4 separate regions of the Homo sapiens genome follow, and regions 1, 3 and 4 are each linked to region 2. The links come from fine-mapping of genetic effects on gene expression. A gene starts in region 2. Each other region holds a variant in brackets. All regions are shown on one strand. Distances are between the middles of the regions.

Region 1 (2,737 bases), 250 kb before region 2:
CCCAGCCCCCCTGCTCAATGGAGGAGGGTACAACGTCAGAGAGAAGAGGTCAGAGGATGCTTCAGATGCAGGGACCAGGCGGGGCTCCGACCTCTGGGCGCTCAGGGCAAAGGCGAGAGTATGGGCCTTTGAGCATATCACAGACGCTGCTGCTTCCAGCCCATGGGGACGCTGCCACAGCCAAGAGGGCACAGAAGCTGGGCGTCAACAACTGGGTGGGCAACCACTGGGCTAAAAAGACTCGGACCAAGCCTCCTGAAGGAAGGAGTGAGAGCGAGCGTGAGGATGGCACTTATCCCAGAGCTGTGGGTCCATGCAGGAGGGACCCCCAGTGCATGGTGAGCAGCCTCAATCCATGCAGGAGGGACTCCCAGTGCATGCTGAGCTGAGCAGCCTCAAAGCCTGCCCTTCTTTGATCTCCCCAGTCATTCACTCGTGAGGCAGGTGGCCCCTGTGTGTGAGGCGCCGCGGTTCAGCACACATGCATGGCAAACCCTGCCCCGTGGCGCTGGCTGTGGGGCAGAGACGGACAATGAGCAGGAAGGAAGACGGGTGCCAAGGAGGGAGGCTAGTGACACCTCCCTCAAATGGTAATACCTAGACACAGCTGATGGAGAGCAAGGGAGGAGCCTCCAGCCAGACACAGTGCAGAGCCTGCCCTGCTGTGAGCATTCACAGCAGGCCAGGGAAGAAGGGGACAGGGAGGGGACAAGGCACTCCAGGGCCCAAGGGCTTGAGCTAACCCTGTGTGTGGAAGGCGATGCCGTGGAGGGTCCGAGCTGGCCCTGAGTGTGGAAGAGGACGCTGGAGGGCCCGAGCTGGCTCTGTGTGTGGGATGGGACGCTGTGGAGGGTCCGAGCTGGCCCTAAGTGTGGAAGAGGACGCTGGAGGGCCCGAGCTGGCTCTGTGCGTGGGAGGGGACGCCATGGAGAATGGGGGTGGGACCAGGAGCTGCAGAACAGTGAGTTTCCGTAGCCAGTCCACACAGTGTACTGCTAAGGGGAGGGGGTGGCTGTACCTGACAGTTGACGTCCATCTGTCCATTTGAAAGCAGGTACTGGACCACTTCGTAGTGGCCTTTCTTGGCAGCCAGGTGCAAACACGTAGAGCCCTCTGCGTCCTGCAACAGAAATGCCACTTAGTCAAAGAATCCATACCTGTGATCCTGGTGTGCCAGCCCTGAGTGCGGGATCCAGGAGAACCCGGTGTCTACCATGCGGGTGGGGTACTGTCCTGCTCAAATGACAAGGAAACCCAGGCTGAGGCCGAGGGAACAGCCGAGGTCCAAGCGCTGTGTGCAGCCCCCTGTGGCCCCATGAGTGGTCAGTCGCCTGGCACAGTGAAGACACCGTCAATGATTCAGCAATAGTTGTC[C/T]GTGTACCACAGAACTTAAAATAATAGATGGCAAAAAGTGGGAACACAAAGAGCGCCAGGCCCACCCCACGGCTCCGGAAACGCCAGGGACTCTGCCCTCCTCTTGCTTCCTTTGCTGCTGGGCACATCTTGTTTTTTTTTTCTTTCTCTCCTTTTTGAGATGGGGTCTTGCTGTATCGCCCAGGCTGGAGTGCAGTGGTGCGATCACAGCTCACCACAGCCTCTGATTCCCATGCTCAAGTGATCCTCCTGCCTCAGCCTCCCACGTAGCTGGGACTACAGGTGTGCACCACCATGACTGGCTAATGTACTTTTTTCTTTCCTAGAGACAGGGTCTTGCTACACTGCCTAGGCTGTTTTTGAACTCCTGACCCCAAGCAATCCTCCCACTTTGGTCTGGGAGTCGTAGGCATCGTAACTGGGATTACAGTGCTGGGATTACAGGCATGAGCCACCATGCCCAGATTGGGAACACCCTCTCATTTCCTTTCAGCTCTGTTTCCCTGAGGAGACCAAATAGATCACACCTATCAAACCATCTCAAAGGAAAACAAAGACATGCAAGGTTGGAGGTCAGACCCAGGAAGCTCCAGAAGAGGCAGGGGAGCCGGTGCCGCCCACACCGCTGTGCCATCCACACGCCTTACACAGGGTTCTTCCTGCCTGTGCTCCTCACACAGGCCCGCAGACGCACTCCACCACCGTCTCCCTTCAGGTGTTTGCTTTGCTTTGCTCCCCTGTTCCTGTCTCCACTTAACCATGTTCCTTCATTACCTTTCTCCCCTTATCTCGGTGGAGTCCGTGTAGCAGTCATAGAGTTTCGCAGGCATCACTGCACATACTGCTCCCCTACCTGGGGCTAAATCAGCATGCTCACCTTCCTCAAGGAAAGCCAGCACACCCGGTTCCCACACGGCTAGTGTTCAGAATTGTAATTTTATTATGAATACAAAATGATGCATGGTTGTTAAAGGTCTGCCTTAATTTTCAAGTGTCTTTAATCGCTGGAATAGTGCAGCTGACAATCTCCTAACTGCTGGCAGACTGTCACAGAATTCAGGACAGAAGCAGGTGCACCTGGCAGAGACCTTGGGCAAGCACTTCTGAATCAAGCAGGTGAGAGACAGACGCCAGCAAAGGAAGCTTAGTGAAGGAAGCCAGCTGTCACAAGAGCAAGACACCAGGCAGGAGGAGGGCAGGGCTGGGAGCGGCAGAGTGGTGGGGTGAGGGGATTGAGAGTCAGCCAAAGGAACCCCGTGGGAATAGACGTGAAGGTGGCAAAGAGCGGGGCTGCAGGTAAGGAAAGGCTTCTGTCGGGTTCAGTGACAGCAGCTAGCTGTGAGGTCTGCAGGCACACAAACAG
Region 2 (2,500 bases):
CGACCTTGCTCCGCTTCCGACCGCTGCGTCGCAGCAAGAGCGGCTCCGATTGGCCGCGGCCGCCGCGTCCAATAGCGGCCCCAATCTGGTAGGGGGTGTGGCCGCGGGGACTCGGCCAATGCGAGGAGCGCGCGGGGCGGGGCGGGGCTCGCGGGGCTGGCGGTGCGGGGCCGGCGGTGCGGGGCTCGCGGGGCGGGGCTCGCGGGGCGGGGCTCGCGGGGCGGGGCTCGCGGGGCGGGGCTCGCGGGGCGGGGCTCGCGGGGCGGGGCTGGCGGATGAGTGATCGCTCTCAGCGCGGTGGTCCCTGGCGTCTCCACTGCCCGCCACTGCCTGTGTTCGTCCGCCAGGTGGCCGGCGGTTTCCCGGGAGCCCAGTCCCCCTGAGGCCGTGAGGTGGCGTCGGGAGGTCGGGGAGGACGCGGGCCCTGGACTCGAGACGGCCGCCGCGTTGACGCCGCGACCCTGCCTTTCTTACCCCTCCGCCGGGCGCGGCTCCTCTGGGCGGAGCCGGCAACCGCGCGGGGAAAGCCCGGGACCTGCAGCCGGGAGGGCCCGGGCTGTCTGTGCTCCCCCGCAGGCCGGGCAGTGGTGTGGGGGGACTCGAGCCCTCGCGGTGCCCAAATTAATCAATAATCTTGGACCCAGCACGTCCGGCTTGCGCACTGAGCCCTCCTGCCCGGTCACCCTCGCAGGCGACCTCTCACCCCACGCGGAAGTCGCCCCCCAGCCGCACCCTCACAATCCGGATCCACCCCCTCCCCAGCTGCACCCCGTCCCCAGCGGCACCCCCACAGCCCAGATCCATCCCCTCTCCAGCTGCACGCCCTTCCCCAGCGGTACCCCCACACCCCAGATCCATCCCCTCCCCAGCTGCACCCCCTCCCCAGCGGCACCCCCACGCCCCAGATCCACCCCCTCCCCAGCTGCACCCCCTCCCCAGCGGCACCCCCACGCCCCAGATCCACCCCCTCCCCAGCTGCACCCCCTCCCCAGCGGCACCCCCACACCCCAGATCCACCCCCTCCCCAGCTGCACCCCCTCCCTAGCGGTACCCCCACTCGCCGGATCCACGCGCTCCCCAGCTGCACCCTCTCCCCAGCAGTACCCCCACACCCCAGATCCACCCCCTCCCCAGCTGCACCCACTCCCCAGCGGTACCCCTACACGCCGGATCCACCCCCTCCCCAGCTGCACCCACTCCCCAGCGGCACCCCCACACCCCAGATCCACCCCCTCCCCAGCTGCACCCACTCCCCAGCGGTACCCCTACACGCCGGATCCACCCCCTCCCCAGCTGCACCCTCCTCCCCAGCTGCATCCCCACACCCCGGATCCACGCCCCGCCAGCGTCACCTCCCCTCCAGCCGTGCTTCTCCAGAAGGCAGCGCTGCCCCCATCCCCGCCGCGCTGGGCCTGGCTCCTCTTGACCTGCTTGGATACGCCCCATCTGGCTGCTGTTCTGGGTTCCGGGACAGCCACGTGAGGGCTGTTTACAGAGGGAAGGAGGTGGCTCCTAGCAGATGACAGACACTTCTCAAAAGACAGCTTTTCTTCCTGGAGAACAGACTTTTTCAGCAGGATTTTCCTTTCAGTGAAACATAATTTGACTTGAAAGGAACCCAGGGAAAAGTGTCCAGGTGTGAGCATGAGCGGGTAGAGGTGTGCCCTTGTTTGCTTCAGGCTGTCTGCTTTTCGCCCCTGACTGTTTTTTCTGTTTCTGGCCATGGAGGAAGAGAAAGATGACAGCCCACAGGTATGTAACTCGGGGGACCAGATGCCTGGATTTCCCAGTTGGGGGGCATTTCTGGACCCAGAGAAGGGTCCTCTTGGCGTCTGCTCTGCCGCGCTCTTTGGCCCCGTGGCTTCTTGGCGCCTGAGGACTGTGGGAGTGGTGGATCTGGCCCCTCTCTGCTGCCTGTCACAGCTGCCAGCACTTGTTAGACGCGCCTGTCACAGCAGACAGCCAGTGGTGGCCCATGGGCATTGTTCACAGCGAGGGCAGCCAGCGGTGGCCCATGGGCATTGCCTGAGGCCTTGTCTTTTCTTCCCCTAAGGTCACAGTTGCTACTTCCAGTTCCTTTAGGACTTTGCCTGATGGTTTTGCTTAGAACCTTTTTCTGTGTTTTTTTTTTTCCCAAGACGGAGTCTCGCTCTGTCGCCCAGGCTGGTGTGCAATGGTGTGATCTTGGCTCACAGCAACCTCCGCCTCCTGGGTTCAGGCAATTCTGCCTCAGCCTCCCGGGTAGCTGGGACTACAGGCACCACGCCCGGCTAATTTTTGTATTCTTAGTAGAAACGGGGTTTCGCCATGTTGGCCAGGCTGGTCTTGAACTTTTTTTTTTTTTTTTTTTGAGACGGAGTCTTGCTCTGTCGCCCAAGCTGGATTGCAGTGGCACGATCTCAACTCACTGCAAGCTCTGCCTCCCAGGTTCACGCCATTCTCCTGCCTCGGCCTCCCAAGTAGCTGGGACTACAGGCGCCCACCACCACGCCCGGCTAAT
Region 3 (2,737 bases), 21 kb before region 2:
TCGGCCTCCCAAAGTGCTGGGATTACAGGTGTGAGCCACTGCACCCGGCCCACTTAGCTATTCTTTTTTTTTTTTTTTTTTTTTTTGAGATGGAGTCTTGCTCTGTTGCCTAGGCTGGAGTGCAGTGGCGCGATCTCGGCTCACTGCAAGCTCCGCCTCCCAGGTTCACGCCATTCTCCTGCCTCAGCCTCCCGAGTAACTGGGACTACAGGTGCCCGCCACCACGCCCGGCTAATTTTTTGTATTTTTAGTAGAGACGGGGTTTCACTGTGTTAGCCAGGGTGGTCTTGATCTCCTGACCTCGTGATCCACTCGCCTCGGCCTCCCAAAGTGCTGGGATTACAGGCGTGAGCCACCTTGCCCCGCCCACTTATTCTTTAGAGAGCAAAGTATAGCTTGCCTCAGGCAGTGCAGGGTCTTGGGTGGTGTTGGCCAGGGTGTTGGAGGAGCAGGCACCTGTGGGCAGAGCCATCCTGCCTCCCTGATATGCTCGGTGTCAGATCCTTTATGCTTTTACTGGAAGTCCAGTTTCTGTGCTTTTTGCCTGATACCTGTGGATACAATAGTGACTTCGCCATGTTGGATTTCAAGTTTGTCTGCACCCTTTTTGGATATAGTTTATCTTCCAGAAATAAAGGAAGCATGAGAGAAATAAGATTCCTTTCCAGGTCTTGTGAATGGTTTGCATTTGGGGCATGCTGATGTGGGAGTGAGAAATTAACAACTGGTGTTTCCAGGAAGGAGGTAGCTTTGGCTAGCATCTCTTTCCCAGGTAGAGATAACTCATGGCAGGTGAGAGGGGCGGGTCTCTGAGAAAAGACAGAAGAGGAGCTGCTGAATTTGCAAACAGCCGAAGAAAAGATCTGACCCTTCCCTGCTGCTACCCATCCGGGCCACTGTCTCATCTAGTTTGTTACAGCAGAGCAGCAAGTGATGGCCCTGCCTTCATTCCTGACTGTTCCAGTCTCCACACAGTAGCCAAGCAAGTGTTTTAAAAACACACACACTTTATCGCATCTCACTCATTGTTAGAACCCCTCACAGTTCCTGTTTCATTGAGGATAAAATCCAAAATAGTGATGCGATTACCCAAGGCCTGTGGAATCTGGTCCACGCCTGCTTCTCCGGCCTTGTTTTGGCTCCTATGCTCTCAGTCACCTTTTCCTGAAATAGTCCACATTCCCTCAGTCTCAGGGTTTCGTCACGGGATGTTTCCTTCATGGGTGAATTCTGCTTTTTTGACATGCCCAGCTTAAAATCTTGTCCTTAGAAGACTGACGCAGAGCAGCTGTCCTTCCACCCCAGGCAGGCCTCACCTCCGCCGTGGCTCACGCTGCCTCTGCTTGTCCGAGTGACGAGCACGTGTGTAAGGCGG[C/T]GTTCTTATTTGTGTTGCTCATTGTCACAGCCTTGAACCGTCTGAGAGCCATAAAGATCTCATTTCTTGAGGTCTCTCCTTGGGTTGGTTCTTCTACCTTGAGCTAATTCAGAGCAAAGGTACCGTAGGGCAATGATTGAATAATTCTGGACTGATTCATTCTTTCAACAAATGCTATGTGCTGAGCCCTATTCTAGGTGATTAGAATACTTTAGCAAACTAAACAGACAAAAGTCCTGCTTTCTTTTTTAAGTTTTATTATTTTTATTTATTTATTTATTTTGAGATGGAGTTTCGCTCTTATTGCCCAGGCTGGAGGGCAGTGGTACAATCTTGGCTCATTGCAACCTCCACCTCCTGGGTTCAAGTGATTCTCCTGCCTCAGCCTCCTGAGTAATTGGGATTATAGGCACCTGCCGCCATGCCCGGCTAATTTTTGTATTTTTAGTAGAGATGCGGTTTTACCATGTTGCCCAGGCTGGTCTCGAATGCCTAGGCTCAAGCGATCTACCTGCCTCAGCCTCCCAGTGTTGGGATTATAGGCGTCAGCCACTGCACTCAGCCTTCTTAAAAAAATTATTTATATAGGCCAGGCGCGGTGGCTCACACCTGTAATCCCAGCACTTTAGGAGGCCAAGATGGGCGGATCATGAGGTCAGCAGATCAAGACCATCCTGGCCAACATGGTGAAACCCCATCTCTATTAAAATACAAAAAATTAGCCGGGCATGGTGGCAGGCGCCTGTAGTCCCAACTACTCGGGAGGCTGAGACAGTGGAATTGCTTGAACCCGGGAGGCAGAGGTTGCAGTGAGCCGAGATCGCACCACTGCACTCCAGCCTGGCGAGAGAGCAAGGCTCTGTCTCAAAAAAAAAAAATTTATTTATATAAATACATTTTGAGGATGGGGTGGGTGGTTCACGTCTTGCTGTGTCACCCAAGCTGGAGTGCAATGGCGTGACCACAGGTCACGGCAGCCTTAACCTCCCAGGGTCAAGCGATCCTCCTGCCTCAGCCTTCTGAGTAGCTGGGACTACAGGTGTGAGTTACCACACCTGGCTGATTTTCACATAAAAGTCCCTGCTTTCACCCAGCTTACATTCTGTGGCGGGGAGACAGACAGTAAACACAAGGCATAATATGTAATAGGGAAGGAGACTGCATGGCCTGTCAGGGGCAATGAGTGCTTTGGAAAGAAGGTAGAAGGAGGTGAGAGGGGACCAAGGGTGCTGGGAGCAGGTGCAGATTATACTGTTGGAGAGCATGGTCAGGGTGGGCAGTGGTCCTAAGGCAGGAGTGGCCCTGCTATGGCAGAAGAGTAGCCAGTAGCCAGCATGGTTAGGATGACCTGAGGCAGTAGCG
Region 4 (2,737 bases), 160 kb after region 2:
GATAAGGGTTTTGCATCAAAAACACTCCCAGGGGCCAGGCGCGGTGGCTCACGCCTGTAGTCCCAGCACTTTGGGAGGCTGAGGCGGGTGGATCACCTGAGGTCAGGAGTTCGATACCAGCCTGACCAACATGGGGAAACCCCATCTCCACTAAAAATACAAAAATTAGCCAGGCGTGATGGCGCATGCCTGTCATCCCAGCTACTCGGGAGGCTGAGGCAGGAGAATCGCTTGAACCCGGAAGGCGGAGGTTGCAGTGAGCTGAGATGGCCCCACTGCACTCCAGCCTGGGCATTGCAGAGAGACTCTGTCTCCAAAAAAAAAAAAAAGAAAGAAAGAAAGAAAAGAAAAAAAAACACTCTGAGGGAGACTGAGGTCTGCCTGGGATGAGAGCTGTCAGCGGCCGCCTGGAGTCTTACGGAGCTGCGTACTGGGTCAGCCGTGAGGGCGTCACTCCGAGGTCCCTGGTCCTGCAGGCGCCCTTGCCCTCTGGAGGAGAGCACCTCTCTCCCATGTGGCTCCCTCAGGGCAGGACACACAGCCTGAGGGGGACATGGCAAGGGGGGTCACGCTGTCCTCAAGAACAGGCCCCTCTGCACTCCCGCGAGGGTCTGTCTACTGTGCCCCCCCCCAGGGCCCCTCCCACCCCCTGCCCTCCCTGCTGAAAGCTGGGACGGTTTGGCAGGGAACTGGAATGCAGGGTCCAAACTTGGCAGCCGTCACCCCAGCTGGGAGAGGAGTGTGGAGCTGCCCGCTATGCTCAGCGACTGGGGGTCCCACTTGGGCCCCCCCAGGCACCAGCTCCCTCCACCACCTCCAGGGGCTGTGGGCGTGGGCTCTGCATGGCTGCCTGTTGCAGTGGGCTCTGCATTCACCTGATTGTCTGTTTCTGCAGATCCTCGTTCCTAGCTGCCTGCCAGCGTCCTCGGCCCGGCCCTGAGGATGGACCCAGGAGATCCCGCTGGTGACCCTGCCGCTGGCGAGCGCCACCGCATGGGTGAGTCTGAGCCTGATGGTGCCGAGTCTCCCTGGGGCTGTGGGGGGAGGTGCGTGGG[T/G]GTGCATGGGGGGTGGTGGCGCCCACTGTGTACTCAGTGACGAGGGCCAGGCTGCTGGCCCCTAGCTGCGGGCCTCTCTACAGTGTCCACGGCTTGGGACCTTGTGAGTCCGGAGGCCCCACTGTGGCCTTGTTGTCCTCGGGGGTCAGGACAGGCCGCCTCCTTGGGCCCCAGCGTGGGTGGCCTGGCGCCGGGCCTGTGACAGGATCCGGGGGAGGTGGCGGGGACAGTGCAGCTGCTCAGGGCTGGCCGCAGAGGTGGGAGCTCTGGTCCCCTCTGTCCCTCGGGGAGCCAGGCGGAGGGCCCGGAACACCCTTGGGGGCTTAGCGCCGCCACTGGGGGCTCAGGGAACCCACAGCCTCTTGGGTCTCGGGCGGTTCCAGGGTGGCCTCCAGGGTCCCTAGTTTTTTAAACTGAGGCATTTTTCATCCCTTCGAGTTAAGAAGAACATCTGCCCTCCCAGCAGCTTTTTCAGGTTAAAAAAGAGAAATGAGAGGCACCTTCCCTGTGGGCAAAGCCGGGGAGGCCGCATCCCCGCTCGCTCGGCTGCCCTGCCAGATTCAGTGCTGAGGATAAACAGCCCGAGGGGAGGTGCAGCCTCTCTCCCTCCTGTTCCTACAGATCGAGACCCTGCAAGCTGAAGACTGGGCCAGGGTTAGGGAAGCGGAGGCTGGAAGGCCGGGATTAGGGAAGCGGAGGCTGGGAGGCCGGGGTTAGGGAAGCGGAGGCTGGGAGGCCGGGGTTAGGGAAGCGGAGGCTGGGAGGCCGGGGTTAGGGAAGCGGAGGCTGGGAGGCCGGGCTTAGGGAAGCGGAGGCTGGGAGGCCGGGGTTAGGGAAGCGGAGGCTGGGAGGCCGGGGTTAGGGAAGCGGAGGCTGGGAGGCCGGGGTTAGGGAAGCGGAGGCTGGGAGGCCGGGGTTAGGGAAGCGGAGGCTGGGAGGCCGGGGTTAGGGAAGCGGAGGCTGGGAGGCCGGGGTTAGGGAAGCGGAGGCTGGGAGGCCGGGGTTAGGGAAGCGGAGGCTGGGAGGCCGGGGTTAGGGAAGCGGAGGCTGGGAGGCTGGGGTTAGGGAAGCAGAGGCTGGGAGGCCAGGGTTAGGGAAATGGAGGCTGGGAGGCTGGGGTTAGGGAAGCGGCGGCTGGGAAGGAGTGGAGCTGCCTAGTGCCAGAGGGGTCAGCCCGAGCCTCAGCTGCTCTCTGTGCCGGGGACGGGCTGGGGCGGGAAGCCTCCTGGCAGGGGCTCGGCCCCAGTGGGAGCTGTCCGGGGCCATGGCTTTGTGGGCAGAGGGTGAGAAGGGGGTGCCGGGGCCCCTTCACATCCTTCACCCTGCAGTCCTTGTAAACAGCAGTGAGAGCTGTAAGGCCCTGGCCCAGCCGCCTCGCCCTGGGCTGCAGGCCCTCAGTTTGTTGTGGGTTTACTGCCTTTTCACTCACCGCCCCCTGGCCTTTGCCCAGTTCCACCCTACACATGCCCTGCCTGGCAGCCCCTCCATGGGGCAGGGCCATGGCCCTCCCCTCTGTGAAAGCCCTGCTCCCACATGGCAGCAGCTGAGGCTCTCTGCCTCAGTTTCCCTATCCCACGCAGTTGCCTCCTCGGGCCTTGGACCCCTCCAGGGGCTTCCTCTCTGCCTTCCTCTTCTGTGTCCCAGTGGGTGCTGAGGGCTGTGGGGGCACCTCCGGGCATGTC

Evidence for each region. PIP is the estimated chance that this variant, and not a neighbour inherited with it, causes the effect.
Region 1: its variant is fine-mapped to the expression of PNPLA7 in blood mononuclear cells (TOPMed, PIP 0.94).
Region 3: its variant is fine-mapped to the expression of PNPLA7 in whole blood (TOPMed, PIP 0.91).
Region 4: its variant is fine-mapped to the expression of PNPLA7 in whole blood (INTERVAL, PIP 0.95).

What each region holds. Positions count from the first base shown.
Region 1 is chr9:137,797,196-137,799,932 of GRCh38, reverse strand. EHMT1 (euchromatic histone lysine methyltransferase 1) reads right to left here. Exons shown (of 27, transcript NM_024757.5): 17 at 1,019-1,120. Among named protein-coding and RNA genes, the nearest start is that of MIR602, 40 kb to the left of the region's middle. The variant C/T (reference allele first, on the strand shown) is at 1,375.
Region 2 is chr9:137,549,420-137,551,919 of GRCh38, reverse strand. It overlaps PNPLA7 (patatin like domain 7, lysophospholipase), which reads left to right and starts at 1,518. Exons shown (of 35, transcript NM_001098537.3): 1 at 1,518-1,752. The coding sequence starts at 1,723. MRPL41 (mitochondrial ribosomal protein L41) reads right to left here and starts at 41. Exons shown (of 2, transcript NM_032477.3): 1 at 1-41. RefSeq lists a silencer at 1-719 and an enhancer at 1,908-2,409.
Region 3 is chr9:137,570,710-137,573,446 of GRCh38, reverse strand. The region is part of intron 5 of DPH7 (diphthamide biosynthesis 7); the gene reads left to right. Among named protein-coding and RNA genes, the nearest start is that of DPH7, 6.8 kb to the left of the region's middle. The variant C/T (reference allele first, on the strand shown) is at 1,376.
Region 4 is chr9:137,393,563-137,396,299 of GRCh38, reverse strand. EXD3 (exonuclease 3'-5' domain containing 3) reads left to right here. Exons shown (of 22, transcript NM_017820.5): 2 at 896-997. The coding sequence starts at 943. Among named protein-coding and RNA genes, the nearest start is that of EXD3, 28 kb to the left of the region's middle. The variant T/G (reference allele first, on the strand shown) is at 1,056.